Linked DNA regions of Homo sapiens: regions 1, 2, 3, 4, 6 and 7 are each linked to region 5. The links come from fine-mapping of genetic effects on gene expression. A gene starts in region 5. Each other region holds a variant in brackets. All regions are shown on one strand. Distances are from middle to middle.

Region 1 (4,000 bases), 150 kb before region 5:
CCTTATAAGAAGAGGAAAAGATACAGGAAGACACACAGAGAAGGCGGCCATAGGAAGAAGGAGGTTACAGAGATGGCATCATTCTGCCACAAACCGGCGGGTGCAAAGGATGGCTAGCAGCCATCAGACGCTGGGAGAGGGGCTGGAGGTGGTTTTTCCCTTGAGCCTCCAGTAGGAATCAGCCCTGCTCACACCAGACTTTGGGGCCCCAGAACTGTGAGACAATGAGACTATGTTGTTTTAAGCCACCAAGTTTGTGATGTCTTGCGGCCGCCACTGGAAACTAATACAAAGAGAATCCCAGCGTTGAACACAGGCATGCAGGGTTAGCTTTGCCAGCACAGGAGAGAGTCGAGCTATACTTTCTTCATCCTTCTGGATGTGCCTGAAGTCACGTCAGTTGTTGTGGTTTTTTCCAAAAGACCATCCTGAGCCCACTGTTGATTAAACTTCCAGTGTTTTCCACCGAGGCTGCTCCTAAGCCATCAGCCATTTCATTCAGCCTTTCAGGATACTTGCTGAATCCTGATGCGTCACCCACAGTCTTTACTCTTTCTAGCAGCTTGTGTCACTAGTGAATGCATGAACATAGCTTTTTTTTTTTTTTTTTTTTTTTTTGAGACGGAGTCTCGCTGTCGCCCAGGCTGGAGTGCAGTGGGACAATCTTGGCTCACTGCAGGCTCCGCCCCCCCGGGGTTCACGCCATTCTCCTGCCTCAGCCTCCCGCGTAGCTGGGACTACAGGCGCCCACTACCTCGCCCAGCTAATTTTTTGTATTTTTAGTAGAGACGGGGTTTCACCGTGTTAGCCAGGATGGTCTCGATCGCCCGACCTCGTGATCCGCCCACCTCGGCCTCCCAAAGTGCTGGGATTACAGGCGCCCGGCCGAACATAGCTTTCTGTATCTTCATCTAGGTTAGTGGTTCTTAGCCTTTTGCTTTATAGATCCCCTTTGATAAGTGATGAAAGCGGTGTACCTTTCTCCAGAAGACTACGTATTTATGTAGAGATACACAGAACTTTTAATAAGGTTAGGAGGCCAGTTGCCTCTTGAAGCCCCAAGTTAAGAATCCCTGCGCTAAGTTAGGGTGGAAGTGCTGGCAAGTGAACGGACAGGCCCTCGCGGTGTGTTGGTAAAAATCTAGGCTGCTGGGCGTTATTCCATTAATCAGCACTCTTCAAGGATGGCCGTTTCACAGAGTTCTAACTCACTTTATTGACTTTGCATTTAGCATGTGTTTCTTCAGCTTATGATACCATAAAAGACATAATCAGATGCTTTGCTGGAAAAAACAAGGATACTCTATGTACTTTGTTCCTGATTGGCTAGGCCAGGAGCCACTGCACGGAAGGAAAAGAAGTGAATCTTTCATGGCTTAGCCTTGGTGTGTTAGTTTCTTATTGCCGCAGTAACAAATCACCAAAAACTAGGTGGCTCACAGCAACACCAATTTACTCCTCTTACAGTTCTGGGGGTCAGAATTCTGAAATGAGTTTTACTGGCCTCAGTGAGA[C/G]CAAGGTGTTGGCAAGACTGCGTGGCTTTGGAGCTCTCAGGGGGAATCATTTCCTTGCCTTTTTCAGCTTGTAGAAGCTGCCTGTGTTCCCTGGCCCATGGCCCCTTCCCCCATCTTCAAGTCTCTGACTTTGACTTTCTCCGTCTGTCACCCACATTTAAAAGACACTTGTGATTACATTGGGCCCACCCAGACAGTCCAGGAGAATCTCTTTATTGTAAAGTCAGCCGATGATCAACCTTGTTTCATCTGCAACCTAGTTCCCCCTTGCTCTGTAACCTGATGTATTCACTGACAGGTCCTGGGGATTGGGAGATGGACGTCTTTGAGGGAGCCGTCGTTCTGCCTCTCTCACGTAGCAGGCCTGTGCTGGCACCCCACCATTACAGCTTTCTCTTCACACTGTCTGCAGATTATTCCTTCAGTAATCATTTGTGAAATTTTTCTAAGGCTTAGCAGGACCCTAATGGGTCAGTTGTTTTCACGGCTCACCTTCATTGTTTCGTATCAGTGCTCTGTACACGGGTTGGTTTTCCAACATTTCTTTTCTATGACTCCTTAAAGGTCAGTGATGCACCTTCTCATTTGCATGTTATCAGCAGACTAATTCATCTGGATCAGAAAAATCCTAAATTCCTGTGGGACAGCTGCCTCAAGTATTCATTCATCAAATAATTATTAAGCACCTACTGAGTTCCAGACAGGACAGGAAGTTCCTGCATGCTGTTGCTGTCTGGTGGGGGGAAGTAAAAGGAGTCAGCTCTTGTGTCCTATCTGGGGAAAGCAGACCGTTACACAGGTCATAACACGATTATTTAATCATAGTCTTGGGAAAGCATCGGGATGCTGAGAGCATAAATGGCAGAAGAGACTCAGTCTAGGGTGGTCAAGGCGTCCCTGAAGAAATGATGTTTCAGCTGAGACGGCAGCATGAGCAGATATTACACTGAGAGGGGGCAGAAAGGAGGATGTTTCAGTCCAAGGAAATATACACGAAGACTAAAAGGTGCAAAAACTGTGATGTACTTGTGGAATTTGAAAGGAGTTAGAGAGTAAGGGGGAGAGTGGGGCACAGTAGAGTTGAAAAAGTCAGTGTTTTCCAGGCCTTGTTAGGATTTTGGACTTTATATAAGAGGAATGGAAAACTATTGGAGGGATTTTTGTTGGTGTTTTAAGATTTTTTAATTGTGGTAAAATAACGTATAAATTGACCATCTAACTGTTAAGTCATGGTAAGTACATTTCCACTGTTGTGCGACCCATCTACAGAACTCTTTGTCTTGCAAAATGGAAACTCTATACCCATTATACCAGCTGGGTGCAGTGGCTCAGCCTGTAATCCCAGCACTTTGGGAGGCTGAGGTGGGCAGATCACTTGAGGTCACGAGTTCGAGACCAGCCTGGCTAACATGGTGAAACCCCATCTCCACTAAAAATACAAAAATTAGCGTTAGCCAGGCGTGGTGGTGTGCACCTGTAGTCTCAGCTACTCAGGAGGCTGAGGCAGGAGACTCGCTTGAACCCGGGAGGCAGAGGTTGTAGTGAGCCGAGATCACACTACTACACTCCAGCTTGGGCGACACAGCAAGACTCCATCTCAAAAATAAAAAATAAAAACATACCCATTAAATGACAAGACTCCATTACCCCCTCTGCCGCAGCCCCTGCGAACACCACTCTACTTTCTGTCTCTATGAATTCGACTAGGTTAGTTCCTCATAATTTGTAACTGGATTATTTCACTTAGCATATGTCCTCAGGTTCATCTGTGTTGTAGCATGTGTTAAAATACTGTTGAAGAATTTTAACCTGGGGAATAAAGTGACCAGATTTTTAAAAATTAGCACACATTTTTACCAGCTGTAACATACACTGAAAAATACACAACCGTAAGTCTGCAGCCTGATGACTTCCCACAGAATGAACACACTGATGTAGCCATGAACCTAGTGGAGAAGTTGAGTGTGGCCAGCTTTGCAGACCACCTCAGGTCCCTTCCAGTCACGGCTCCTTCCCTCCTCGCTCCCCAGCAGTAACTTCTGTCCTCGCTTTGACACCGTAGTTTATACCTGTTCCTTAACTTATGTGTAAAGGACAGCTTTTTACCTGCAGCACTCTGATACCAAATGTGTGGATTTTCAACATCAATTGGATGTCCTACAGTTTAATTCAATTCTGACACTAACTACCTGGTAAAGTTAGCGCAGACCCCACAGGTAAAGGGCCTAGTCCCACAAAACCGCCCCCTACTTCAGACACCGGTTGTAGGTAGTGGGACAAAGGGTACCCACACATCTGTCTTGACTTGGCTACAATTCAGGAGGTTCCCGTAACGCCCTACTCAGTTTGATAATTTGCTATATAACAGCTCATAGAACTCAGGAAAACACTTTACTTACTGTCCCTGTTATTATAAAGGGTGTTATGTAAGATACAAATTAAGAGCCGGATGGAGAGGTACATAGGGTAAGGTCTGGAAGGGTCCC
Region 2 (4,000 bases), 120 kb before region 5:
CTGTTTCCATAGCTGTCTCAGTTTCTTCTGGTTGTTCATCTTCCAAAATCATATTTAATAATTTATCACAGATTTTAATTTTTTATGACATTCTCAATCATTTTTAGTTATAGAAGAAAAAAATGTTTTAGTTGGATGATATAGTACCTCTAAAATAGAGAAAAGAATTTGGCATAAATGTCAAACAGTCACAAGATTGGGATTTGAATCTTAGACCAAGTTGATTATCAGCTTTGTGATTTCGGGTAACGGAGTCCTTAAACTGGCATCCTCGTCTACCTAAAAGAGGGTGATTGCAAAATTTATTGAGCTAACAAACTGTAATGTATAACAGTTGTACAATTTTTCTTATGCCTGGAATAAGCAGTAGCTTTTATAAAATTATGAAATCAATTTTTCTTTCATTTTGAGATTGGCACTTTAAAAAAATTTCTAAGTATACTTTTTCTTCATTCTCCTGGTGTTTTTCCATATAACTTAATTGTTTAAAATATATCTAGTACAAAAAAATAGTTAATCAACAGGTATCGATTTATACCTGCTATATGCCAGGCATTCTGTGATGGACACTGTAGGGATTTGTAGAAGGATGTACGAGTGAGTGTTTGCCGGGAACACTTCCTCCCTTAGGGAAACACACACGCCTGAAGTAATTGGGGAACCACTCAGTGCATAACTTTGCATACCTACGTAGCGGGATCAGCTGTAGTGTTATTACGAAAGGGGTTCTGACCCAGGTCTGGAAGACTTCATGTAGGAGGCATTCATTGTGCCAGGCCCTGCATAATGAGGATTACTTAGGATTCGACCAGAAAGAGAAAATCCTCTCAGTAGACGAACCACATGAATCAAAAATCTGGTGAGAGGAGAGGGAGTCGGAAGGAAATGGAGAAAATCAGGTAACTGCAAGTAGAGAGAGGGAGTTGGATTCTATATGCTAATTGTTTTTTGAACTCTTGTTAGAGCTCCAAGCATAAACAAGACACACATGGTGCCTCTTTCCATGGAGTTATAACAAGCAGAGAAGATGAACATTGAGTACGAAGTCATGACTGTGGGAAGTGACTTAGGTCCAAGGGGTCAGAGAGGAATGCCTTGAGGAAACAGCATCCGAGTCGGAGTTGAGGAGTTGAGAAGAGTATTCTAGGCCAAAGGCCCCTTGTAAGTGAAGGATCTGAGGTGGGGAAAAGCAAAACAAAAGTAATTTTAAGTACAGGAAAAAAACAGCACAGCTCAACATGGTGGATAGGGTAATAGTAAATTCAATTCAGAGCAGAAGTGTGCCTAAAGCAGGGACTGTCGCTTAGTAACACGGGAGGATTTGAAAGAAGGGAGGCGTGGTCTCGATGAGGTTGATGCGGCCTAAGCTGTGCTTTCCAGCGCTGCACTGGGGTGTGCAGTCTCACACCGGCAGCAGCCACAGAGCCGGGCAGCCGGAGCCCCAGTGAATGATGGCAGCTGTCTCAAGCAGCTAGCAGGGTTCCTAGCTTCTTCTCTGCCATCTGATTGGGACCTGGAAAACCAGCAGGAAGCATTGGGTGGGAGTGTGGAGGGAACCAGTGGTGGCAACAGAAGCCCCACAGGTGACGTGTGGAGAGGAAGAGTGGAGCAGGAAGGCACGCGTCCTGGCTGCTAGGGTTCTTAATGGAGTGGGTGCTCAGGATGAGAGGGACAGTGGTTATAGAAAGGTCCTGTTTCAGTCCAGCGAGCTGCACTAGCTGAAAGCCTGTCCTAAGAATGGGGTGAGAAGTGCAGGTTAAGTAGCACAGAGAACACACACACTATCAGAAGCTTCTCTGAGTCTCGTCTTTTCAGCCAGGCATTCACGGTAAATCTCCAGAATTATGATCCTCTTCTGACTTT[C/T]GTATGCCATAACTCTCTGCCTTTCTGTTTCTGCTTATACTCAGAGAAGGTCATTATACACTGGCAACTCCTTGCTTTCCAGGCTCATCAATGTGTTACTCAGTTCCCTTCCTCCACAGATAACCCTTCTCACCCTGTAGGGCAGTGCTGTCTACAGAAATTCAAGAACCCTGGTGTCAGAATCACATAAGCTAATTGGAAAGACACTGATTCCAGGATCCTCCCCCCACCCCACCCCAGACAGTCTCAAGGGATGGACCCAGAGACCCGTGCTTTCACCCCGTCCTGCTCCTGTGCCAGTTTTGCCCTCCCTTCATCATAGGGCAGAAGCAGTGGTTTGGCAGCTCTCTGTGCTGTGCATTTTGATGTGAACTAGTAAGAACTGGTAAAAGTCAAAAGGAGAGAAACCCGGATCATTGCCCTTACTGAGTTTACAGTCCAAGGCTCCTGCAGTCTTCAGAGCCCTCTCTGTGCCTCCATGACAGTATTGTCCTTTTCCTTTCATGTGGTCATTCTTTGCATACTGGACTGGCAGTAAGGAAAAGCCCAGGGTTTCATGCAGTTAAAGTTTGTGTCATGTCTTTCGGTTCTCTGCAGTGGTCAGCAGAATGCCCTGAACAAAATAAATATGGCTTGCTCTGAAATGATTTTATTAAGTTATTTAGTTTGGTTGTTAAGCTTTCTTTTCATTTAAGGCTATGTTTTATACCTAATTTTAAAATTCCACATTGGAATATAAGTATTCCCTATATACTGTATGTACCAATACAAGTGTAAGTATTTTGTTTTCTTGCCTTGTCAACCAAGAGCTTGGTCCTGTTTATTCTAAAGCATGCCCTTCACCTGGTGACTGAAGGACGTCTGTTCCAGTGCCCTGTCCATGACGTCATTGACAGGAAAGGCTACTCATTGTGTGGTTTCACTTGTTACCTCTGGTTAGCAGAGTGAGTTCTTTGTCATGTAGTTAGCGGATCTGTGGTAGTATGAAGGGGACGTTATGGGTTCTTGGATAGTTTACAATAATGCATACTTGTCTGAAAATTATGGATTTATTTTCCTGGTTTTTAAAGATTTATATAGACTTTACTGTTATTGTTTAATCATCTTAAGTTGTGTTAAATCACTGTCTGATAGAATTAGCTGTAGTTTTATCTGTATGTCTGTAAGAATTTTGTGGACATTCTTTCCATTGTTGAAAGGAAGATGAGGTAATTTAGATAAACATGTAACCAAATAATAATGTTGCTTTTTAATCTTTTTATCAATCAGCAATATCAGATGCTTCTTACTGGGTTTTTCTTTTTTTTTTTTGGATGGTTGAACAAAATTAGTTGAATGGCTCTTCACCTTTTTTCCATCATATTCTCTTAAAAACGTATTTAGCTCTATATTTATTATCTAGCATTGAATAGAAAAATGTCACACTTTGTAAAATATAGAAAATTCACTGTGAATACAAAAAATACTTTATGAAAACAAGTAAAAAGAAATCACAAACACATTGTAGAATACCTTTACGTATCAGTAATTTGGGCCACTTAACGTAAATCTATTTTCTTTATTCTAAATGCCTATCAAGAAAATGAGTAATATAAGTATACTATTGTTTTACCGTTTAAAGTTTTTTAGCTTCTAATTGAATATGGATTTAACTACCTCAGAAAAGATGGAGCTTGGAATTGAAGTGTACTGCTGTGGCAGGAAGTAAGGGTTTAAATTGCATTTATATTTTTGCCTGAGTTTGCACATGCTTCTACTGTATCTTCCATCTGGTTCATACATTTTTTTAAAAAAAATTCATAATTATCAAAATCTAAAACTGAAACACTTAAGCAGTAGCTTTAAAAAAATAAAAATAGCCTTTAATAAAATAAATGCAATGGTTCCATTTTAAAACTTCCATAAGCTCTTAATTTTCTTTTTTCTTTAAATCTGAAGTGGAACTGGAGAGTGCCTTCACCAGCAGATACATGAGACTGTCCTCTAGCCTTCCTTGCAGTCTCCGTGTCCCAAGTGGGTTGTTTGAAGTTGTCACTTGATTTACTTTTTTGTCTTTTCTGTGCTTCTCTTTCCTCACTGGCAGCAGAAGAGGAGGAAGGTAAAATCATATAAAGGATCTACATGGGTTTGAAATACT
Region 3 (4,397 bases), 240 kb before region 5:
GGTGAGAGAGGGCATCCCAGAGACAGGGTTTCTCCATGTTGAGGCTGGTCTCGAACTCCTGACCTCAGGTGATCCGCCTACCTCAGCCTCCCAAAGTGCTAGGATTACAGGTGTGAGCCACAGCACCCAGCCAACATTTTTTTTTTTTTAATCCCTGGGGAAGGAGGAGAATCTGATTTCAAGAGTTGCCACATTGCAAGAGTCAAATGTCCAGTTTTCTACAAAATAAATACCACAAGGCATATAAAGAAACAGGAAAACATGGATCATTTGAAGGAAAAATAAGTAAATCAACAAAAACTGTCCCTGAGAAAGACTACATGACAGACTTATTAGACAAAGGCTTTGAAACAACTGTCCTAAAGATGTGCAAAGACGTGAAGTAGCAGTCAAGAAAAAGATGTATGAACAAAATGGAACTATCAATAAAGAGACAGAAAAACATACAAAGGAACCAAAAATAAATTTTGGAGCTATAAAGTACAATAACTGAAATGAAAAATTCACTAGAGGTATTCAAAAGCAGATCTGAGGAGGTCAAAGAAAGAATCAGCAAACTTGAAGATAGGGCAATTGAAATTATTGAGTCTGAGGAACAGGAAAATAAAAAAGATTGAAAAAGTGAACAGAACCTACAGGACCTAAGCAATACCATAAAGCAGACCAACATACACTTTGTGAGAGTCCCAGAAAAAGAAGGGAGAGAAAGGTATAGAGAGATTATCTGAATAATTAATGGCTGAAAACTTCCCAAATTTGATGAAAAACATGAATATAAACATCCAGGAAACCCAGTGAACCAAGTAGGATAAACTCAAAGAGACCCACAGTGAGACACATTATAATCAAACTGGAAAATACAACAACAAATAGAGAATATTGAGAGCAGCAAGAAAGAAGTGAGTCATCACATAAAAGGGGTCCTCGGCTGGGCGCAGTGGCTCACGCCTGTAATCCCAGCACTTTGGGAGGCCGAGGCGGGTGGATCGAGAGGTCAAGAGATGGAGACCATCCTGGCCAACATGGTGAAACCCCATCTCTACTAAAAATACAAAAATTAGCTGGGCGTGGTGGTGCATGCCTGTAGTCCCAGCTACTTGGGAGGCCGAGGCAGGAGAATCGCTTGAACCAGGGAGTTGGAGTGCATTGCAGTGAGCCAAGATTGTGCCACCACACTTCAGCCTGGTGACAGAGCTAGACTCTGTCTCAAAAAACAAAACAAAACAAAACAAAAACTGATCCTCAGTAAGATTATCAAGAAATTTCCCACGGAAACCTTAGAGGCCTTGGCGGGCACAGTGGCTCACACCTATAACCTGTAATCCCAGCACTTTGGGAGGCTGAGGTGGGCAGATCATGAGGTCAGGATATTGAGACCATCCTGGCCAACATGGTGAAACTCCGTCTCTACTAAAAATACAAAAATTAGCTGGGCGTGGTAGTGTGTACCTGTAGTCCCAACTACTTGGGAGGCTGAGGCAGGAAAATCACTTGAACCCAGGAGGCAGAGTTTGCAGTGAGCCGAGATTGTGCCATTGCACTCCAGCCTGGTGACAGAGCAAGACTCTGTCTCAAAAAAAAAAAAAAAAAAGAAAAAAAAAGAAAAGAAAAAGTAGAAAAGAAACCTTAGAGGCCAGAAGGCAATCGGTTGATGTATTCAAAATGCTGAAAGTAAAAAAACCTGTCAACCAAGAATCCTATGTATGGCAAAACTGTCCTTCAAAAATGAGTACAAAGTTAAGACATTCCTAGATAAACAAGAATCGAAGAAAGTCACTACC[G/A]CAAGGCCTACCTAGGAGAAATACTAAATGAAGTGCTTCAGGTTGAAATGAAAGACACTAAAGAGTAATTCAAAGCTGTGTTAACAAAAATATCTGGTAAAGATTTATCCATGGGCAATTATAAAAGCTGGTATTATGATAACTGATTTGTAACTCTACCTTTTTTTTACATGATTTAAGAGACTAATACATTAAGAAAATAAGTATTAAGTCTGTGCTTTTGAACATAATAAAAATGTAATTTTGTGACATCAGTAACTAACAGGGTGGGGACAGAACTGTATAGGAGCAGAGTTTTTGAATGCTACTGAAGTTAAACTGGTCTAAATTCAAATTAGAGTGTTGTAACTTTAGGATGTTAAATGTAATTCCCATGGTTGCCACAAAGAAAGTAGCTATAGGATATACACAAAAGGAAACAAGAAAGGAATTAATGTTTCACCACAAAAAAAGAACACAGTACTGCAGGAAATAAGGAACAAAAAGATACAAGGCAATAGAAAAAAAAAAACAGCAAAATGGCAGGAGTAAATCCTGTCTTAACAGTTATTATTTAAAAAGGAAATAGATTACACTCTCTAGTCAAAAGACAAAGATTGGCAGAATGGATTTTTTAAAAAAGATCCAACTATATATTGTCCACAAGAGATTCATTTTAGATCCAAAGTCATAAATAGGTTAAACATGAAGGGACTGAAAAAGATACTCCATGTAAACAGTAACAAAAAGAGAGTGGGAGCAGCCATACTAATAACAGAAAAAATACTTTAAATTTTAAAGGATTACCAGAGACAAAGAAGGGTATCACATATCAATGAAAATTTAATATAGCAAGAAGACTTAACAATTATAAACATTTATGACCCCAAAACAGGTCATTAAAATATATGAAGCAAAAATGGGCAGAATTGAAAGGAGAAATGGACAGCTCTATAGTAATAGTCAGAGACTGCAATACCTCACTCTCCAGTCTAATGCTTTCCCAACTAAGCTATTTCAGCAGCTGCTACCTCACTCTCAATAATGGATAGAATGCCCAGACAGAAGATAAGTAAGGAAATAAAAGACTTACACAACACAATAAGCCAACTAGGTCTAACAGACATATACAGAACTCTACTCAACAACAACATACACAGTCTTCTAAAGTGCACGTGGGATATTCTCCAGGATAAACCATATGTTAGGACACAGATTAAGCCTCAATAAATTTTAAAAGAGAGATATCATATGAAGTATCCTCTCCAACTATGACAGGATGAAATTAGAAATCAATAATAGAAGGAAAACTGGAAAATTCACAAATTTGTGGAAAGTAAACAACACATTCTTAAACAACCTATGCATTGAAGAACAAGTCCCAAGGGAAATTCGAAAATACTTAGAGATGAATGAAAATGAAAACACAACATACTAAAACATGGGATACAGCAAAAACTGTCCTTAATGGAAAATTTATAGCTGTAAACACATTAAAAAAGAAGAAAGATCTCAAAATAACAACCTAATTGTACAATGTAAAGAGCTAGAAAAAGAGGAACAAACTAAACCCAAAGCTAGCAGAAGGAGGGAAATTATAAAGATTAGAGAAGAGATAAATAAAAGAGAATAGAAAAACAATAGAAAAAAATTTAAAAAGCCTAAAGTTGGTTCTTCAAAAAGATTAACAAAATTGACAAACCTTTAGCTAGACTGACTGAAAAAAAAGAGATGACTGAAGTTATTAAAATCAGAAATGAGAGTAGGGATACTATTACCAATTCACATAAATTAAAGGGATTATAAGAGTACTATAAAAAATTATATGCCAACAAATTGGAAATTTGAACAAATTGGAATTTCTAGATGAAATTCCTAGAAACTGAAATCATGAAAAAAAAATTAGAAACCGTAAATAGACCTATAACTAATAATGAGGTTTAATTAGTAATTAAAAGCCTTCCAACAACAAAAAAGTCCTGGACCTGGTGGTTTCACTGGTGAATTCTACCAAACATTTAAAAAAGAACCATCACCAATGCTTCTCAAACTTTTCCTAAAAATTAAAGAGGCAGAAACACTTCCTAACTCATTTTATGAGGTCAGCATCACCTTGATACCAAAGCCAGACAGAAGCACTACAAGAAGTAAACTACAGACCAATATCCCTTATGATGCAAACATCCTCAACAAAATACTAGCAAACCAAGTTCAGCAGCATATTAAAGAAAATTATACACCACAACCAAGGGAGGTTTATTCCTGGAATGCAAAGATGGTTCAACATACGAAAATCAATCAATGTAATACAATAGATTAACATGATGAAGGAAAAAACACATGATCATTTCAATTGATGAAGAAAAAAGCATTAAACAAAATTCAATGCCCTTTCATGACAAAAAAAAAAAGTACTCCAAAAACTGGAATAGAAGGAAACTACCTCAACATAATAAAAGTCACATATGAAAAACACATAGCTGGCCAAGCACAGTGGCTCATGCCTGTAATCCCAACACTTTGAACGGATCACTTGAGCTCAGGAGTTGGAAACCAGCCTGCGCAACATGGTGAAACCGTGTTAAAAGTACCAAAATACAAAATACAAAATGAGCCGGGTGTGGTGGCATGCACCTG
Region 4 (4,381 bases), 170 kb before region 5:
TGTCCTGGGAGGGCAGACATTGCTCACAGGGGAGACAGATCTCCTCCTGAAGGACTGAAGCTCTTACGGGGCCTGGATGTGGGAGGCTGGCAGCTCGGGCCCCACTGGAGTTCTGGGGAGAAGGGGATTTTGAGCTGGGGCTTACAGGTGACCTAGGATTTATTGTAGGCTGAGAAATGGACACAGAGGCAGGGGAATATGGTGCGTGGTGGAGTCAGGGAAATAACCCCATTAAGGAAAAAGGTTCGTGGGCAGCTCATTCACAGGCCAGCGTGGGCCAGAGCCAGACTGCGGCACACATCCTCCGTGAGACCTGCCATGTCCGATAAAACCACTCGTACTTTTATTTAACCAATACTTTTAATTCACTTTTTTCTTAAATGTTTTAAAAGATAGCATCGTGTAAAGATATACACATGGCCAATAAGCACATGAAAAGATGTTCAGCACCACTAATCATTAGGGAAATGCAAATCAAAACCATAATGAGAGACCACCTAATACCCATTTAGATGGCTACTATTTTGAAAAAGAAGTAGAGAAGTGTTGGCAAGGATGAGAAGAAACTGGAACCCTTGTGCAGTTGGTGGGAATGTAAAATGGGGCAGCTACTATTAAAAAAACAGTAGGGCAGTTCCTGAAAAAAATTAAGCATAGAATTACCATTAGATCTGGTAATTCCACTTCTGAGTATATACACAAAAGAATTGAAAGCAGGAAGGGATATTTATACGCCCAATGTTCATAGCATCATTATTCACAATAGCCAAACAGTAGAGGCAACCAAGTGTCCTATGATGAATGGATAAACAAAGTGTATTATATACATACAGTGGAATGGATGAATGGCTAAAAAAAAACTTGGAATATACATACAATGTGATATGATTCAGCCTTAGCAAAGGAGGAAATCTGATACGTACTTCAACAGAGGTGAACCTCAAGGACATCGTGCAAAGCAAGATAAGCTACTCACAAAAGGACAAATACTATATGATTCCACTTATGCGGGTAAGTAGAATCATCAAAATCATAGAGACAGAAAAGAAGAATGGTAGTTGGGGAAGGGGGAACGTTTAATGGGTGCAGAGTTTCAGTTTTACAAGATGGAAAGAGTTCTGGAGATGGATGGCAAAGGTTACACAACGATGTGAATGTACTTAATGCCACTGATCCATATGCTTAAAAATGGTTAAGATGGACAATTTTATGTTATGTGTATTTTACCATAATATTTTAAAAGGTAGCGTTGTATCACTATTATAAATGAAAAACTTCTTGTCTCCCTAAGGTCTCCTTAAAACCTTGAGGTTTCCTTAAAAGACAATGCCACTCCCAAGTACAGGCTGGTGTGAATGTTGCCGTACATGCTGGTGCGTGATGAGGCTGTGCACCGAGACCTCATCTTGCTTTATTTAAAGGGGAGATCAGCAAGTGCCAGGGAAGTGTTAAAGGTGCTCTGGAACCAATTTTCTCCTTGACAAATTCAGAAGGGTTGAGAAAGCCACTTCCTCCCCACCTGATTAACAAAGTGGTGCTTGTGAGCTTCTATAATTGTTTCTTGTGCCAGGGGTCATGGGCACCTTACAGTTTGAAGACTCCTCCTTTATAAGGACAAAGGAGTAGAGGCCATGAGCCTCTTGGGCAGGGGTAGGCCAGGGCATGCCCAGCAAGAAGAGCAGGAGACCGTCACCGGGAAGAGCCCTACACAGGCCCTAGATGTGGCCCTGGGCTGTGGGGAGAAGGAATTTCTGGGTCTTAGGTGCTAGAGCATGGGTACCTTGGTGCTAAGGACTCCTTGCCCTATGAAGGGTCCAGCTGGAGGGGACCAGATTAGAGCACTCTTTAGGTGCCAGGCCCAGGGCGAGGACCCCGCTGCTTTGGCCTAGGGTCTGTACTTGCCGAGGATAAGTAAATAAGTAAAAGCCGTTCTCCATAGGCCAGGGCACGGTTTATAAGGACTATGGTAGAGGATGGAAGAGAGGGAAATGGAGGGAGAAATTGTAAAGGATGTCTGCCAAGTCATCAATAGTGGACATCTGTTTTCTTTCTTTTTTCTTTTTCTGAGACGGAGTCTTGCTCTGTCGCCCAGGCTGGAGTGCAGTGGCTCGATCTCTGCTCACTGCAACCTCCGCTTCCCGGGTTCCAACGATTCTCCTGCCTCAGCCTCCCGAGTAGCTGGGACTACAGGCACGCATCACCACGACTAATTTTTTTATTTTTAGTAGAGACGGGGTTTCACCATGTTGGCCAAGCTGGTCTCGAACTCCTGACCTCGTGATCCGCCCACCTAGGCCTCCCAAAGTGCTGCGATTACGGGCGTGAGCCACCGCGCCTGGCCAGTGGTGGGCATCTTAAGTTTTAGCCTGCACTGCATCCGTACCCTTTCCTGGAAACAGTGCCTCAAATTTCTTTTTGGGGAGCCACCTCTTTTCCGGATTTTCAGAACATTTGGTTGTGCAAAGCTGACTCCACCCACTTCCCGCAGTAGGAGACAGGAGACTCAACCCTGGCTGGTCAGAAGACGCCAAACTTTCCCCCTCCGCCTCCCCACAAAGATCCTGTAAGTTCCTGAATTCGGCTGCACTGCCCCATTCTTCCTTTTAGCTGATACTTTATAGCGATGTGTATCTTTTAAACGCCATGGAGAGAGAAAATGAGAGTCGTGTGTGTGTGCGCGCGCGCGCGTTTCGGAAGGTGGAGGGGGGGTTCCCACTGCAACCCTCTGGTCCGGGGGCCCCTGGAGTAGTTCA[C/G]CTAGTCACTAGAGCAGGGGCTCCCCAACCGCCCGGCCGCGGACCTGTACCGGCCCAGGGCCTTCGAGGAACCAGTAAGCGAGCAGGAGGTGAGTGAGCATCACCGCCTGAGCTCCGCCTCCTGTCAGATCAGGGCGGCATTAGACTCTCATAGCAACGTGAACCCGGCTGTGAACTGCGCATGCTTGGGACCTAGGTTGCCCACTTCTTACGAGAATCTAACGCCTGATGATCTGAGGTGGAGCAGCCTCATCCGGAAACCACTTCAACTCCCTCAGTCCCTGGAAAAACTCTCTTCCTGGAAACCCGTCCCCCAGTGCCAAAATGGTTAGGGACGGCTACCCTAGAGGTCTTTCCCAACCACTCGTGTCCCTGCAGGTCCGGGCCAGAGACATCCCCCATCCATGATGTCAACCGCATGACGTGAATGTTAAATCTCATGACATTTAATTTTAAACATTTCTTTTAAAGTTATGGCTTTTTTTCCTTTGTAGTCTGTTCTCACACATTTCCATACGTCCTCGCAAATCTCCCGGGCTCCACGCCCTGCGGCTATCACGCCTGACAGAGAAACAACCAGCACCAGCGGCTGACCCGGCTGCCCGGGCCCTCGTGCAGGCGGGCGGGAGCGGACAGGCCCTGGCACGCATGCGCTCGGGGCGGGACTGCGCCTTAGGCCTGCGCGTTGCCGCTAGACCAGCGGGGGGGCGGGGCGGCGGCGGACACGCGCCTCAGGCGGCAGCCGCGCGAGAGGGACTTTGTGTTCCGCTGACCCTCCTCGGGGCGCTTCCTCCCGTGCCGCCCTTCCCCTCCCCCGCCGCGTCCTTGCGAGGCGCCTCCCATTCGGTGGGACCGACCCGGGGGGATGGAGGGGGCACGCTTCTACAACCCTCCTGGGACCCCGAAGAGACGCCCGCGTGCGACCTGAGACGCCGCCCTCGCCGAGGGCCCATGGGCGCGTCCCCACAGGCGGGCAGTGGACGTGAGGGCGGCGAGCGGCGGGGCCGCGGCGTCCAGGAGGGCCGCGCTCGGGCTCGGCCCCGCGCAGGCCGCGCGCGCGCGCTCCCGCCGCCGCCCGGGCCGCGCCCGCCCCGCCTCTAGGCGCCGGCCCCGGAGCCCGGTCCGCGAGCAGCGGCGGCTGCCGGAGGGACGATGAGCTGCGCGGGGCGGGCGGGCCCTGCCCGGCTCGCCGCGCTCGCCCTGCTGACCTGCAGCCTGTGGCCGGCACGGGCAGACAACGCGAGCCAGGAGTACTACACGGCGCTCATCAACGTGACGGTGCAGGAGCCCGGCCGCGGCGCCCCGCTCACGTTTCGCATCGACCGCGGGCGCTACGGGCTTGACTCCCCCAAGGCCGAGGTCCGCGGCCAGGTGCTGGCGCCGCTGCCCCTCCACGGAGGTGAGTGCCGGCCCGGGGGCGGCGGGCGGTGGTCGCTGCATCCCGCGTAGGCGGCGGGACTAGGGTTCCCGGCCCCGGCTCTGGCCCTGGCTCTCCCGCGCTGCCCGGCCGACAGCCCCAGCCAGGGTCGAGGCTTCCGTCGTGGACAGCCCGGCCTGCTCCCGTGGGAACCAGGCTCCAGGAGCGTGACTGGGTTTTTCCCTTCTTTTAAAAAAGACTTGGAACGGTC
Region 5 (4,397 bases):
AGAGACGGGGTTTCACCGTGTTAGCCAGGATGGTCTTGATCTCCTAACCTTGTGATCTGCCCACCTCGGCCTCCCAAAGTGCTGGGGTTACAGGCGTGAGCCGCCGCGCCCTGCCTAGAACTCTTACACCCAGCTGGTGGGCATGTGGAATGCTACAGCTGCTTTGGAGCGCAGTGTGGTCACTGCTTAAAAAGTTAAACATAGCTGTACCACATGACCCAACAATACCACTCCTCAATATATGCCCAAGAGAATTAAAAACACATATTCACACAAAGACTTGTACACATGTTCATGGCAGCATTATTTATAATAGACGAGGGGTAAACAATCCAAATGTCCATCCAAATGAATAAAATGCGGTGCATCCATACCGTGGGGTACTATTCAGCCATAAGGAGGAATGAAGCATCAATACGTGCTACAACGTGGGTGAACCTCGAACACATGATGGGAAGTGAAAGAAGACAGACACAAAAGACCACATATTGTAAGGTTCCATTTATATGAAGAAATGGCTAGAATGGGAAAAATGTATAGAGACAAAATAGATTGATGGTTGCCAGGGCAAAGCCGGGGGGAAGTGGGGAATGGCAGCTAATGGGTAAGGGGTTTCTTTTGACTTGATAAAAATGTTCTGGAATTAGTGATGATGGATGCCCAGCCTAGTGAATATACTAAAAACCACTACGTTTTGCACTTTAAAAGAGTGAACGTTACGGAATGTGACTTATATCTCAGAAAATCAAAAAGAAGTAAGCTTAGCACGCACATACTAAGTGATCGATAAATGTTTGTTCTTTTTCTTCTTATAAAAAACCATTCTCGAGGAGTGGTCTCCAGGTCAGCAGCATCAACATCACCTAGGAACGAGTTAGCAGTGCAAACACCCTGGGAGGGAGGGGGCAGCAACCTGTGTGGCTGTTTTTTGTTTTGTTTTGTTTTCAGATGGAGTCTTGCTATATTGCCCTGGCCGATTTTGAACTCCTGGCCTCAAGTGATCCTACCACCTCAGCCTCCCAAGTGGCTGGGACTACAGCAGCCTGTTTGAATCAGCCTTCCAGGTGATCCTAATGTATACCCAATTTGAGAACCACTGGGATTAAGGAACAAGACGACTCTTTACCTCCTCTCAGGGTGTTAAAAAGTGCAGTTCTTCCAAATTCTTTCCCTCTAGAGAGCACAATGACAATATTAGTTCAGACTTCCAAGGTGTTGAAGAAAGCCCGCCTCTGCATCTTGAAAGCTGATTCCTATATCCAGCAACATTGAAGAAGACTGCAGATCACTCTGGGTGTCAACTGCATGTACCTACATCCATCGCACCAAGATTCTTGAGTGCCAATCACAGAAACCCACCTGGAAGTCAGGTCCAGCTCCAAGGATGGTTTAACTGCCCCCTTCCCTTTGCCCTCTAGCCAGACCCTGGTGAGGGTTCCAGCCAGCAGGGTGACCCCACATCCCAGTCGACCCCGGACAGGCCCCAGGCCCGTTGTCCCAGGTGGAGTTGACAGCCCCCTCATGCAGAAGGCTGTGTGTGGACTGGCGCTGCCCCTGCAGGCCAACACTGGGAGACCAGGGACCCGCATTCGCCTGCAGCCAGCCTCACACTTGCGCAGAAGCCGCCACTGGGCCCAGGGCCAGTCCAGACCCCATCCCCAGGGCCGGCCAGCCTCTGTGACCCGTCTGTCAGGGGAGGGGCAGCACTGATTTCCAAGGATGCAGCCCGTATCAGGGCCTCCTGGCACCTGCCCTGCGCTGGAAGATTCTTCTAGTCTCCCGGCCCCAGTGTCAGAATTCTGAGAACTGGCCGGGCGCGATGGTTCACTCCTGTAATCCCAGGACTTGGGAGGCCAATGTAGGCGGATCACCCGAGGTCAGGAGTTCGAGACCAGCCTGGCCAACATGGTGAAACCCCGTCTCTACTAAAAATACAAAAAAATTAGCCGGGCGTGTTGGCGGGAGCCTGTAATCCCAGCTAAAGAGGCTGGGGCAGGAGAATCACTTGAACCCGGGAGGCAGAGGTTGCAGTGAGCTGAGATTGCGCCACTGCACTCCAGCCTGGGCGACACAGCAAGACTCTGTCGAAAAAAAAAAAAGAAAAGAAAGCTGAGAATTAGGAGGAACTGCAAACCCTTTCCAGGCGCCCTTTGCAGTGCTAACACGCCCCGGGTTGCACGCGCAACCAGCCAAAAGCCGCCAAACTCTGCTTCTTGACATCCTTCTCTCACACTGCACAGCTTTCAAAACGCCAGAAGCCCTGCTCTGCACAGCGGCTCCCCTGTCTGCGGACTGGGCCGTTCCGTTCTGGACCCAGGCCGGAGGCCGTGGGCTGCACCGCTCCAGGAGGCCAGGCTGGCGCGCGCCCGAGGCCGGGGCTGAGGGGGCGGCGCGGAACTCGGGCCGCGTGCGGGAGCGCCACACGCCCGCCAGGGGGCGCCGCCCGCCCGGCCCCGCCCCGCCCCGGCCCGCTCCGCACGCTCCGCTCCGCACGCTCCGCTCCGGGACGCCGACGGCGGCGGGCGCTTCCGTCTCGCGGGCCTCGGCCCGGTGCGAGCGGCTCCGCGATGTGGCTGAGCCCGGAGGAGGTGCTGGTGGCCAATGCGCTGTGGGTGACGGAGCGGGCCAACCCCTTCTTCGTGCTGCAGCGACGCCGGGGCCACGGCAGGGGCGGCGGCCTTACGGGTGAGAGGCGCGCGGGCGGCCGGGCCTGTGGGCGCCGCGGCTGGGCTGGCGGCGGGGCTGGCGGCGGGCGGCGGGCGGGTCCGGTTCCGGCCCGGCCTCGGCGCGTCGCGGCGGACACGCACGCCAGCGCGCGGCGGGGCGGGGGCGCGAGGCCAGGACCCGGGAGCCGGGCGCGGAGGGGCCGGGGCGGGGAGGCGAGGGGCTGGCGGGAGGCGAATGCGCCCTCGGCGGGCTCTCCTCAGGTCGGCTTGGGGCGGCCAAGTGGAGACCGGCGGCGGCTTCTGCCCGGATTCGGCGCCCGCGAGCCCCGGGGGCCGTGCAGCTTCCCGGGATCTCACCGCCGAAAGTTGGCGAGACCGCCCTGTCCTCATCCTCCACCTCAGTTTCCCCAGGTGCCTCTAAGGGGCCAGGTGACGCCAGCGCACGTTTTCTTTTGCCCTCTTCTTCGTGCCCATCTCACCAAAGTATCGCCCTTTTAGCAAGATCAGAGGTCCCTGGAGCTGGCCGCACCCCCATTCCCCCAGCTTCTCCTCCCCCACCTTTCCTGCTCCTGGCTGCTCTCAGAGCTGCGCACCCAAGGCTGTGGGTAGCGGCACAGGGTGTTCCTGCAAGCTCGCCAAGGTGGCCCTTTGTGGGCCCGGGTGCCACCATCACACAGGATGAAGCTGGACAGGCACCCTTGGAGTCGTGCGGCCTGTGGGATCCAGGGGAGGCCCACAGGCCACTCCCTCCGCAGGTGGTGTCCGGGGCCCCTCATGCTCCAGGGCCTGCGCCCAGCACTGCAGGAGCCCGGCTGGCTCGGGCTCAGTGCCTGTGCTCTTCGGGGCACCGACTGTTGCCCTACAGGATTGCGGTCCCAGTGTTGCCAGGTCGTCCAGTTTATCAAGAGCATTTTCTGTGAATCATCCTGATTTTCAGTGTGAGCAGCTAATAGCCAGATGCAGACGGAGGCTTCTCCTGGGCCACGTTTCTTCATGTGGAAGAGACTGTTCTGTTCCCAGAAACACTCAGTGTTCCCTTCAGCTTCGGGTTCCCTCCCAGTGGGCTTCAAGGATCTCGGGCTCCTGTTCTGGACCCGCCTCCTAGATCCAGCTGTTCAGTCGGCAGCCCCTGTGGCTAACCTCGAAGCTACTGCAAGCCCGATGAAGAAAGCGAGGGACCGGCACCTTTTCTTCCGCCAGCGCGCCAGGGTGTCATCAGCGCGCCAGTGTGTCATATTCGCTGGTGTACTTGAAACACTTGTGCTGTGCTCGGCAGGCTTATGTGGGTCGTCTCATTGAACGGGCGGGTGCAGGTGCAGCCCGGTCTCTGTACACCTCCTTCCTGCGGGCTCTTCTCCTTTCCACCTCACTCTCCGTGTCCCCTGGGACCGAGCTCCCAGGGTCCCCCCAAGGGAACCCTTCTTTGAACCCTCTCCCAATCTCTCCCCACTGCTAGGTTTGGTGTGTCCTGCTGTGCCCTCTGACAGGGCCTTCCCTGTGCCATCATGGGCATCGTGGCCTCCTGAGTACTGTCCTCCCTGAAGAGGAGCAGACAGGGATGTGGTTTTATCCAAGCCATCTATTAAAAACATGCCAACCTAGACTTTTCATTAAAGAATCTGAATAGCTAGCTTGGCCAACATGGCAAAACCCCGTCTCTACTAAAAATATAAAATTTATCCAGGCATGGTGGCACGCGCCTGTTATCCCAGCTACTCGGGAGGCTGAGGC
Region 6 (4,397 bases), 27 kb after region 5:
ATTATTCCAGGCTGGGCACAGTGGCTCACACCTGTAATCCCAGCACTTTGGGAGGCTGAAGCAGGCAGATCACTTGAGGCCAGAAGTTCAAAACCAGCCTGGCCAACATGGTGAAACTCTGTCTCTACTAAAAATACAAAACTAAGCTAGGTATAGTGGCACATGCCTGGAATCACAGCTACTTGGGAGGCTGAGGCACAAGAATCACTTGAACCCAGGAGGTGGGAGAAGGAGGTTGCAATGGGCCACGATCCTGAGAGATTCCTCCTCAAGAGAGGTATCAGACTTTGTGATACAGTAACAACATTTTAGAGTAACTTTTTGTTGGGGGTTGGGGAGGGTGTCTCCTGGAGTGCAGTGGCACAATCTCGGCTCACTGCAACCTCTGCCTCCCAGGTTCAAGCAGTCTTGTGCCTCAGGCCCGTGAGTAGCTGGGACTACGTGTATGTGCCACCATGCCTGGCTAATTTTTGTATTTTTTGTAGAGATGGGGTTGAGATTTCACCATGTTGGCCAGACTGATCTCGAACTCCTGACCTAGGGTGATCCACCTGCCTCAGCCTCCCAGAGTGCTGAGATTATACAGAGTAACATTTTTAAGATATACAATAAAAGAAGCTGTGACCCAGGGATTTTATACCCAGCCAAACTGACGTTCAGGTATAAAGACCATAGGCTGTAAAGAACATGCAGAGGAGTTCAGGGGCTCTCTCAGCTTCTGTGGAGTCTGCTGGAGAACAGACTCCAGATAACCAAGGAGTGATGGAAGCAGCTTGGGCCTAACGACTGGTGGTAGCATTGATTATATTTAGCTGTGGAATTAAGGTTAGATAGTAGGAATAGAGGTGACAGTATATAAATGTTATAATCTCTGATGATGGAGACATAGTACAATCAAAACCTGAGGTTAGGGAGGTATATGAGGCTGGGCTTGATGGCTCATGCCTGTAATCCCAACACTTTGGGAGGCCGAGGCAGGCGGGTCACCTGAAGTTGGGAGTTTGAGACCAGCCTGGCCAATATGGTGAAACCTCGTCTCTATTAAAAATACAAAAATTAGCCGGGCATGGTGGCACACACCTGTAATCCCAGCTACTTGGGAACCTGAGGCAGGAGAATTGCCTGAGCCCAGGAGGCAGAGGTTGCAGTGAGCTGAGATCACACCTCTGTACTCCTGCCTGGGTGACAGAGCAAGACTCCATCTCAAAAAAAAAAAAAAAACGGAAGGTATATGGAAAGATATGGAAAATAGAATAAGCTCACTGATTGCCTTATTAATTAAAAATATATCCTTTTGATCAGATGTTGGCAGAGAGGGAGGAAAGTGGGAAGAAAAGGCCTGCTAGCTAATTTCAATATTGCTTGTAGTAGGGAACTGACATCTTAAAAAGAGAGGACTAAGAAACTATATAATGATATTAGCATAAAATGTTACAGTATAAATATACACTTTCTAACAGGGAAAAAAACTTGAAAGGGGGAAAGGAGACAGTGAGATTAAGCATCTCTTTCAAGAAATTTTGTATAAAGGTCAACAGAGTAATGGAGGTAACTTCTGGGAGGGCTAGAATTTTAATTGAAGTTTAACATATATATCCAAAAGTAAACATACGGTGTACAACTGGATGAATCTTAGCAGAGGGAGCATAATAGGTGAACAGCACCCAGCCAAAGTGAGGGTGGGCTTTAGAGGAGTAACAGTGCAGTTCTGTGCTGGGAGAGCGACTCCTGCAGAGAAGGCAGGGGATGGGGTCCAGGTGCAGGCAGGTGGGCGGGCAGGAGGGCACCCGTGGAGGGCTCGGATTGTTCCCTGTTCTCAGTTAAACAGGAAGAAGTGTGGTTCAGTGGGATGCAAGGATGGCAAGTGGTTTTGGAGGTTTATGTGAGGTGGTTACCTCGGGGAAGAGGGGAGGACTGGACTAGGAATACATAAGATCCCAGGCAGCTCTGAGCACCCACCTGAGGCCAGTAAGCCCGAATGTAAGGTGGGACTTGAGCCAAGCTTCTGCCGAAAGCCGCCTGGTCCCTGAGCTTGGTGCCACGCTTGCCGCCTCGCCAGGAGCACACGTTGGCTGCACGCCACACACCCGGCGGTCTGGCCCCTTCCCTGGCCAGGAGCACACGTCTGCTGCACGCCACACACCCGGCGGTGTGGCTCCTTCCCTGGCACTGAGATGTGTGATCCTCCAAGGCACCTCACAGCCTGCGAGCCCGTGTGTGTCCTAGTCGGTCCCTCTGGGGGAGCTCAGGTGGGAAGCAGGATCTCCAGGCAGGCAGTCAGTCTGCGCTGGGGCCGTGCCCACTGGATTCAGGCAGCTTGTCGTCAACATTTGTTTAAGTGGACCCAAAATCCATTTCTAACATCAC[AGG/G]GGCCAGAGGGGTAGACTGTGGGTGTGAACCTAGCAGAGTTCTCTCTTTTTTTTTTTCCTTTTTCCTTTTATATTAATAACAACTTTATTGAGGTAAAATTGATACGCAATACACTGTACATATTTAAGGAATACAATTTGGTACGTTTTAACAGGTATACGCCCATGAAGCCATCACCACAGTCAAGATCAGGGTTCTCTCAAAAAAACACAGAATGTGAAGTGTTTTAGGAGGGCGCCCAGCACCCTGGCAGCTGCCCCAGCCCTGGGTGGAGTGGGACCGTGGCCACGGGACCAGAGCCAGTGGGAGGGTGTGAGGGGTAGAGAGCCCAGCCCAGGCCAGAGCCCACCATGGGGAATCGACCACCTGCCCAGCCAAGAAGTTCAGGCAGTCAGCTGGCCCTGGTCGAGCTGGGCTCTCCCCCACTGGACTTTGCTTTCTGCCAAGACAGCATCACTCTCAGGCCGGTGTGGCACCATGATGGCAGCAGCAGGCCTTGCATGCTCCCTGGGTTATCCCAACACTCCTGCAGAAGGGCCACTCATTTCCTTGGTAGCAACCGGGTGACGCAGTCGCCCTAAACCCACCCTGAGCCCAGCCCAACATCACAGGCCATCACCCAGCCCTCTGTGCAGCCCAGGAAGCATGGGCCCGAGGGTGGGCAGGGGTGTGCCTCCACGTTAGGATAGGGCCTCTCCTGTCCTTTGCACTGACCCCCCTCAGAAAAGGGCCCCACAGGGTGAGCCCAGAACCCGCTCCCTGAGACTGACTCGCTGGTGAGAGTGGGGTTAATTACTGAGGACTCGGTGTCCAGCAGCCAGAGAGGAGCTGAGGGCTGAGCTGCAGCCACAGCCTCCTGCCCAGCCAGACAGGCTCTTCTCCGTGCACCGTTTGCCCCCATGGCCCTTCTTGCACCGGGCCCCGATCCAGCTCTGGATGGATGGGCGCATCAGAGGCCACCTGGCAGCACAGTTGTTAGGGCGTCCCCTTCCCTGTTTTATTTTCTAGTCTTCCCCAGCTCCTCAGGAGGGGTCGGAGCAGCCCGCCAGCCCAGCCTCTCCCCTCAGCAGCCGCCAGAGCTTCTGTGCGCAGGAGGCGCCAACCGCATCCCAGGGCCTGCTGAAGCTCTTCCAGAAAAACTCGCCCATGGAGGACCTTGGAGCCAAGGGGGTGAGCCCTGAGCGCCGGCACTCCAGCCTCCGTCAAGAGCGGAGCCCTCAGGAGGAAAGCTGGAGCCAGTCCTGGGCCTGGGCCTTCCCTCAGGGCCCTGGGCTGACCGCTGGGCAGTGCCCACCCAGGCTGCACCCTGGCAGCGTGAGACGGAGCAGGCACTCTCTGGGGGGCTCCGCTGACCTGCTCAGTGTGCTGTTTGCCACGGACTCCAGGCCTCTGAAGGGAAGGGCCCTCCCGCTGAGGAGCTGGTCTCCTGAGCCTTGGGAGGTGTGGCTCAGCGCGGCCTGGTCTTTCCCGGGAATTGCGAGGAAGGCCACACTTGCTGGCCAGCACTGTCTGGAGTGTTCACGAGGCTTCCGCGGTGGCCTAGGCCTCGGCACTCAGATGCGCTTCGGCCCCCAGGCTCCCTGATGCGCTTTTCCCTCAGGCCAAGGAGAAGATGAAAGAGGAGTCATGGCACATCCACTTCTTCGAGTACGGGCGTGGCGTGTGCATGTACCGCACAGCCAAGACGCGGGCACTGGTCCTGAAGGGTATCCCTGAGAGCCTCCGGGGAGAGCTGTGGCTCCTCTTCTCCGGTGAGTGGGGTGCAGCCACCCCCAGCCTCAGCTCAGCCAGTCAGTCCCCAAGCTCTCCCCGTGTGAGCTCGTCTGTCCTGAGCCGGCCTGGAGTTGGCCAGGCAGGAGCTCCCAGCTCTTTCACACAGCCGGGAGCCGGGCTCTGGGCTCTGGGCTCTGGCCCGGGACCCAACCAGAAGGAGCATCTCGAGGGACAGAGGCTGGGGAATGGGCACTCTGCTGGCCGGGTGGTGCCCTCCCGCCCACAGCGGGAGGGAAACAGGTCCCCTAGAGGCC
Region 7 (4,397 bases), 380 kb after region 5:
AGGCCGGGCGCGGTGGCTCACGCCTGTAATCCCAGCACTTTGGGGAGGCTCAGGCAGGTGGATCACGAGGTCAGGAGATGGAGACCATCCTGGCTAACATGGCGAAACCCCGTCTCTAGTAAAAATACAAAAAATTAGCCGGGTGTGGTGGCGGGCGCCTGTAGTCCCAGCTACTCGGGAGGCTGAGGCAGGAGAATGGCGTGAACCTGAGAAGCGGAGCTTGCAGTGAGCCGAGATGGCACCACTGCACTCCAGCCTGGGCGACAGAGCGAGACTCTGTCTCAAAAAAAAAAAAAAAAGAGAAAAAAGAAAGAAAGAAAAGTGGCCCGGCACAATGGCTCACGCCTGTAATCCCAGCACTTTGGGAGGCCGAGGCTGGCGGATCGCGAGGTCAGGAGTTCGAGACCAGGCTGGCCAGCATGGTGAAACCCTGTCTCTACTAAAAATACAAAAATTAGCCGGGCATGGTGGCCCGCGCCCAGGCAGGCTGTTCTGGGAGAGAAAACTTGGCTCTCCAATGCGGTGTGGCCATTTGGCTATGACATCACACTGCATAGTTTAATGAGTGAAATCAGACCTCTTCTTGTTATTGGAGATGACTGGAGGATTTTTTTTTTATTTTCCTGAATGTAAGTAGGTAAGCCATGAAGATCCCAGATTTCATTCAGGGACTCAGAACCAGCAGCAAGGAGCAGGCTGCGTGGAGAAAACAGAGTTGGCTCTGGAGTACCCCATGAGTCCAGCTTGTTCAAAGTAAAAGTGGCAATGGCTTTGGGATCACAAAACAGCCCTTGAACATCAAAGTCAATTAGTAGAAACCCCTAAATATCATGGGGCAAAAAATATTTCAAATTTACTTAAATATTCGGTTTATCAGATGGGACTCACTTTTTTTTTCTTTTTTTTTTTTAAACAGATTCTCACTCTGTTGCCCAGGCTGGAGTGCAGTGGCGCCATCTTGGCTCACTGCACCCTCTGCCTCCCGGTTCAAGCAATTTTCCTGTCTCAGCCTCCTGAGTAGCTGGGACTACAGGCACGAGCCACCACGCCCGGCTATTTCTTATATTTTTAGTAGAAATGGAGTTTCACCATGTTGGCCAGGCTGGTCTCAAACTCCTGACCTCAAGTGATCTGCCAGCCTGGACCTCCCGAAGTGCTGGGATTGCAGGCGTGAGCCACGGTGCCCTGCCGGGACTCAATTTTTAACACCTATTTTTAACACTAGCTTTTGTGCTAGTAAATTAAATTAATTCTTTTAAAAAAACCCAATTGTGTGTACTTTAACAAGTAAAACTAAGTTGGTTATAATGTGACAAAAATACAAGCAATAATAATAGCAAAATTATCCAATAGGAACCATGCAGAGAGTTTTATATTATAACTCATGTCCCCTTTCCTGCAATGTTATTAACTTCTATCCCCATTTTCCACATCAAGGAAATTAAGTTTGGAGACACAGAGTGACTTACCTAAGTCACAGGTCTGGTAGGTGGAGAGTTTCTCTCACTCCAGGGACCACAATCTACAAAATAAACTTGCATATTCTACAAAATATTTGTTACCATTGGAAGTAGGTAGGCAGAGTGTTACTAGCATCAAATTATGGCAGGAATAAAAAGAAAGGGTGGTGGGCTGGTCTTGCTTCTGCAGTTTAAGGGGGATCCCTGCGCCGAGATGTCTGGCTAAGTGGTCGTTGTAACAAGTGGCAGAGATGGTGAAAACATCAGG[G/A]AGCAGGTGGTGGCTGTTCCAGTTTCTTATCTCAGGAGGGAAGAGCTGCAGATGTCTTTACTGTGAATGAGGGAGAGAAACGCTAAAGCACAGAAATGTTCAGAACCAAAGAGCTGGATCACTCATGCTTCTAGAAAAGACATTGGCATCTTCTCATTGCTCATCTACTGTGCCTGGCACAGCCTTATTTTCTAGCTTTCTGAATGTGAGTTCCATCCATATCCTTTGCATAACGGTGGTACTGGGCTGTGGAGAGCTTGGAATGTGTGTCCATGGGGAAATGGGCTGTTCTGGTTATTATAAAACGGCCAAGGGAGGGCTCCATGGCACACCTCTGAGTAACCCAGGACACTCCTGTTTGGGAAATGCAAACCATCCATACGGCAGGGGCACAATTATAAAGATTGATCCTGTCACGGGAATGGTTTCAAATCTGACCAACCTCATGGCATACATTGGGGAAGCAATTGTGAAACCCCTTGATTCTTTGGATCTGGACATGCTGTACTGTGACAATGGTTTGTGTGTGACAGAAAATGTAGCTGTGTCTACCGGGAAAGACTGGGGAAATTTCTTCCTGTGGAGTTCTTTATAAAGCAAAAGTGCATGAAACTGTCAGTAATATTGTAGTCTATAAAGGGAAATTGCTCTTAGAGGCTAATATTGCACAATGACTACTTTTTTTGCTTATTTGGAAAAGATCTTTATCTCTTGGAGTATTAAGAAGTCAACATATAATTGCCACCCTATACATTGTGTTCTGGAGTGCCTGATTTATTGAAATCAGTGTGAAACCTATTTTAAATAAATATCTATTTCAAAACCAAGGCCAGACATGGTGGCTCATGCCTGTAATCCCACACTCTGGGAGGCTGAGGTGGGAGGATCACTTGAGGCCAGGAGTTCAAGACCAGCCTAGGCAACACAATCTCCACCAAAAAAAAAAAAAAAAAAAAAAAAAAAAGCAATTAGCCAGGCATGGTGGCACATACCTGTTGGTCCCAGCTACTCGGGAGACTGACGCAGGAGGATCGTTTGAGCCCAGGAGTTCAAGGCTACAATGAGCCGTGATGTGCCACTGCACTCCAGCCTGGGTGTGAGACCCTGTCTCCAAAAATAAAGAAGTCTGGAAATATTGACAGTATTTTTCTAATAGATTGAACCCACTTATTCTTCTGGGGTAAAGGCATAAGTTTACACCCGGGAAGTTGGACACATAAATCATCTGCAGCAATGTATGGTGGACGCAGGTGCAGCAGATGATGGGAACGTTGCTTTAAGGCACACCATGCATTGCGGTTTTGCACAACCTGTTGAACTAAGAATTCCTAGTGAGGGGCAGCACATTAAACATGTCATAACAATAAACTATTTATTATGGACAGTAGTCTGTTTTCAGACATTGTGGCTACCCCAAACAACTTTAAGTCAAAAGACATGATCATTTAGTTTAAACCTGTATAAAAAGTCAGTTTAAAAAGGGTGCAGTACTCTGTAATGTATTTTCTATATGGAAATCTTTCCTAATTGGTCCGTTTTTCTGATGATTAAACATCTGGCACACTATAAAAAGAATACAAGCCAGTGGTGTACTAGAGGACACTCATGACCGTGTTTCATCATTTTGAGATTCAATGACATTGAAGGGAGTAAAATAGAAAATATAATAGGTATAAATTTGTAATTATAAGGAATAGGAGGGAAGTTCTTGTTGGAACAAATTGGCTGCAAGGGCCCTCGTGTCGACTTTGCTCCTTTTGAAGAAAGGAGTGTGATGCTTTCACCCTGAGGGATAATCTGAGAGACTTCACCAGTGACACATACTTGACAGATGATATTAAAGCAGACTTTAACAAGCCAACGACAATGTGTTACTTATGAGCAGTAAGAAATACACAGTCTAACCAAAGTGCACCCTTTAGAAAGTGCTGGGCATATAAGTAGTGAGGCCTTTCATTATTCTAATACACATGTTGACTAAATGGACACTTTCTTCAATTCGGATGATAAGACGCCTCTTCCCAGTAGTTGGGATGGCTGTGCGTCTGTCTCAGGCACACATTCCGTGAGAAGCTGTGTAAGATTTCAGTTTATTTGGAGCATCACATCCTTTTTAAACCCTTTACTGAATATAAAATGAAGCCTGACCTCCTGAGTCTTGGAAAATGTGCATTTCTTAGAATTATTTAAACAATGAATCCTCCGGCTGGACTTGGTGGCTCACGCCTCTAATCCCAGCAGTTTGGGAGACCAAGGGGAGTGGATCACCTGAGGCCAGGAGTTCGAGACCAGCCTGGCCAACATGGTGAAACCCCGTCTCTACTAAAAATACAAAAATTAGCCAGCTGTGGTGGTGCATGTCTGTAATCCCAGCTACTCGGGAGGCTGAGGCAGGAGAATCGCTTGAACCCAGGAGGTGGAGGTTGCAGTGAGCCGAGATCACACCACTGCACTCCGGCCTGGGTGACAGAGCGAGACTCTGTCTCAAAAAAAAAAAAAAAAAAAGAAAAGAATCCTTTTAAGTAGTTCATCAGCTTAAGCCATGTTGGCTGAACATTAAGACTTTGTCAAATCCTGGAAACATAGGTAATATCATTTGAAGGTATTAAATTTTAAGGAACAAAATAATATTAAAATTAGGAAGAATTATTTTGCCATAGGATAAAATA

The links.
Region 1: its variant is fine-mapped to the expression of TBC1D9B in whole blood (TOPMed, PIP above 0.99).
Region 2: its variant is fine-mapped to the expression of TBC1D9B in whole blood (TOPMed, PIP above 0.99).
Region 3: its variant is fine-mapped to the expression of TBC1D9B in whole blood (INTERVAL, PIP 0.98).
Region 4: its variant is fine-mapped to the expression of TBC1D9B in whole blood (TOPMed, PIP above 0.99).
Region 6: its variant is fine-mapped to the expression of TBC1D9B in whole blood (TOPMed, PIP above 0.99).
Region 7: its variant is fine-mapped to the expression of TBC1D9B in whole blood (INTERVAL, PIP above 0.99).

The regions. Positions count from the first base shown.
Region 1 is chr5:180,057,687-180,061,686 of GRCh38, reverse strand. The region is part of intron 1 of RNF130 (ring finger protein 130); the gene reads left to right. Among named protein-coding and RNA genes, the nearest start is that of RNF130, 12 kb to the left of the region's middle. RefSeq lists an enhancer at 1-563. The variant C/G (reference allele first, on the strand shown) is at 1,515.
Region 2 is chr5:180,025,292-180,029,291 of GRCh38, reverse strand. The region is part of intron 2 of RNF130 (ring finger protein 130); the gene reads left to right. Among named protein-coding and RNA genes, the nearest start is that of MIR340, 12 kb to the right of the region's middle. RefSeq lists a silencer at 1,369-1,663. The variant C/T (reference allele first, on the strand shown) is at 1,864.
Region 3 is chr5:180,146,283-180,150,679 of GRCh38, reverse strand. All of the region lies in intron 1 of RASGEF1C (RasGEF domain family member 1C), which reads left to right. Among named protein-coding and RNA genes, the nearest start is that of RASGEF1C, 61 kb to the left of the region's middle. The variant G/A (reference allele first, on the strand shown) is at 1,782.
Region 4 is chr5:180,071,227-180,075,607 of GRCh38, reverse strand. It overlaps RNF130 (ring finger protein 130), which reads left to right and starts at 3,849. Exons shown (of 9, transcript NM_018434.6): 1 at 3,849-4,152. The coding sequence starts at 3,906. RefSeq lists a silencer at 3,499-3,578 and an enhancer at 3,468-4,175. The variant C/G (reference allele first, on the strand shown) is at 2,754.
Region 5 is chr5:179,905,992-179,910,388 of GRCh38, reverse strand. It overlaps TBC1D9B (TBC1 domain family member 9B), which reads left to right and starts at 2,492. Exons shown (of 21, transcript NM_015043.4): 1 at 2,492-2,685. The coding sequence starts at 2,568. RefSeq lists silencers at 2,341-2,500, 2,571-2,630, 2,641-2,780, 2,831-2,880 and an enhancer at 2,761-3,538.
Region 6 is chr5:179,878,771-179,883,167 of GRCh38, reverse strand. TBC1D9B (TBC1 domain family member 9B) reads left to right here. Exons shown (of 21, transcript NM_015043.4): 8 at 3,379-3,540; 9 at 3,971-4,121. Among named protein-coding and RNA genes, the nearest start is that of MRNIP-DT, 22 kb to the right of the region's middle. The variant AGG/G (reference allele first, on the strand shown) is at 2,368.
Region 7 is chr5:179,525,197-179,529,593 of GRCh38, reverse strand. All of the region lies in intron 4 of LOC128966623 (a long non-coding RNA gene), which reads right to left. Among named protein-coding and RNA genes, the nearest start is that of RUFY1, 23 kb to the left of the region's middle. The variant G/A (reference allele first, on the strand shown) is at 1,729.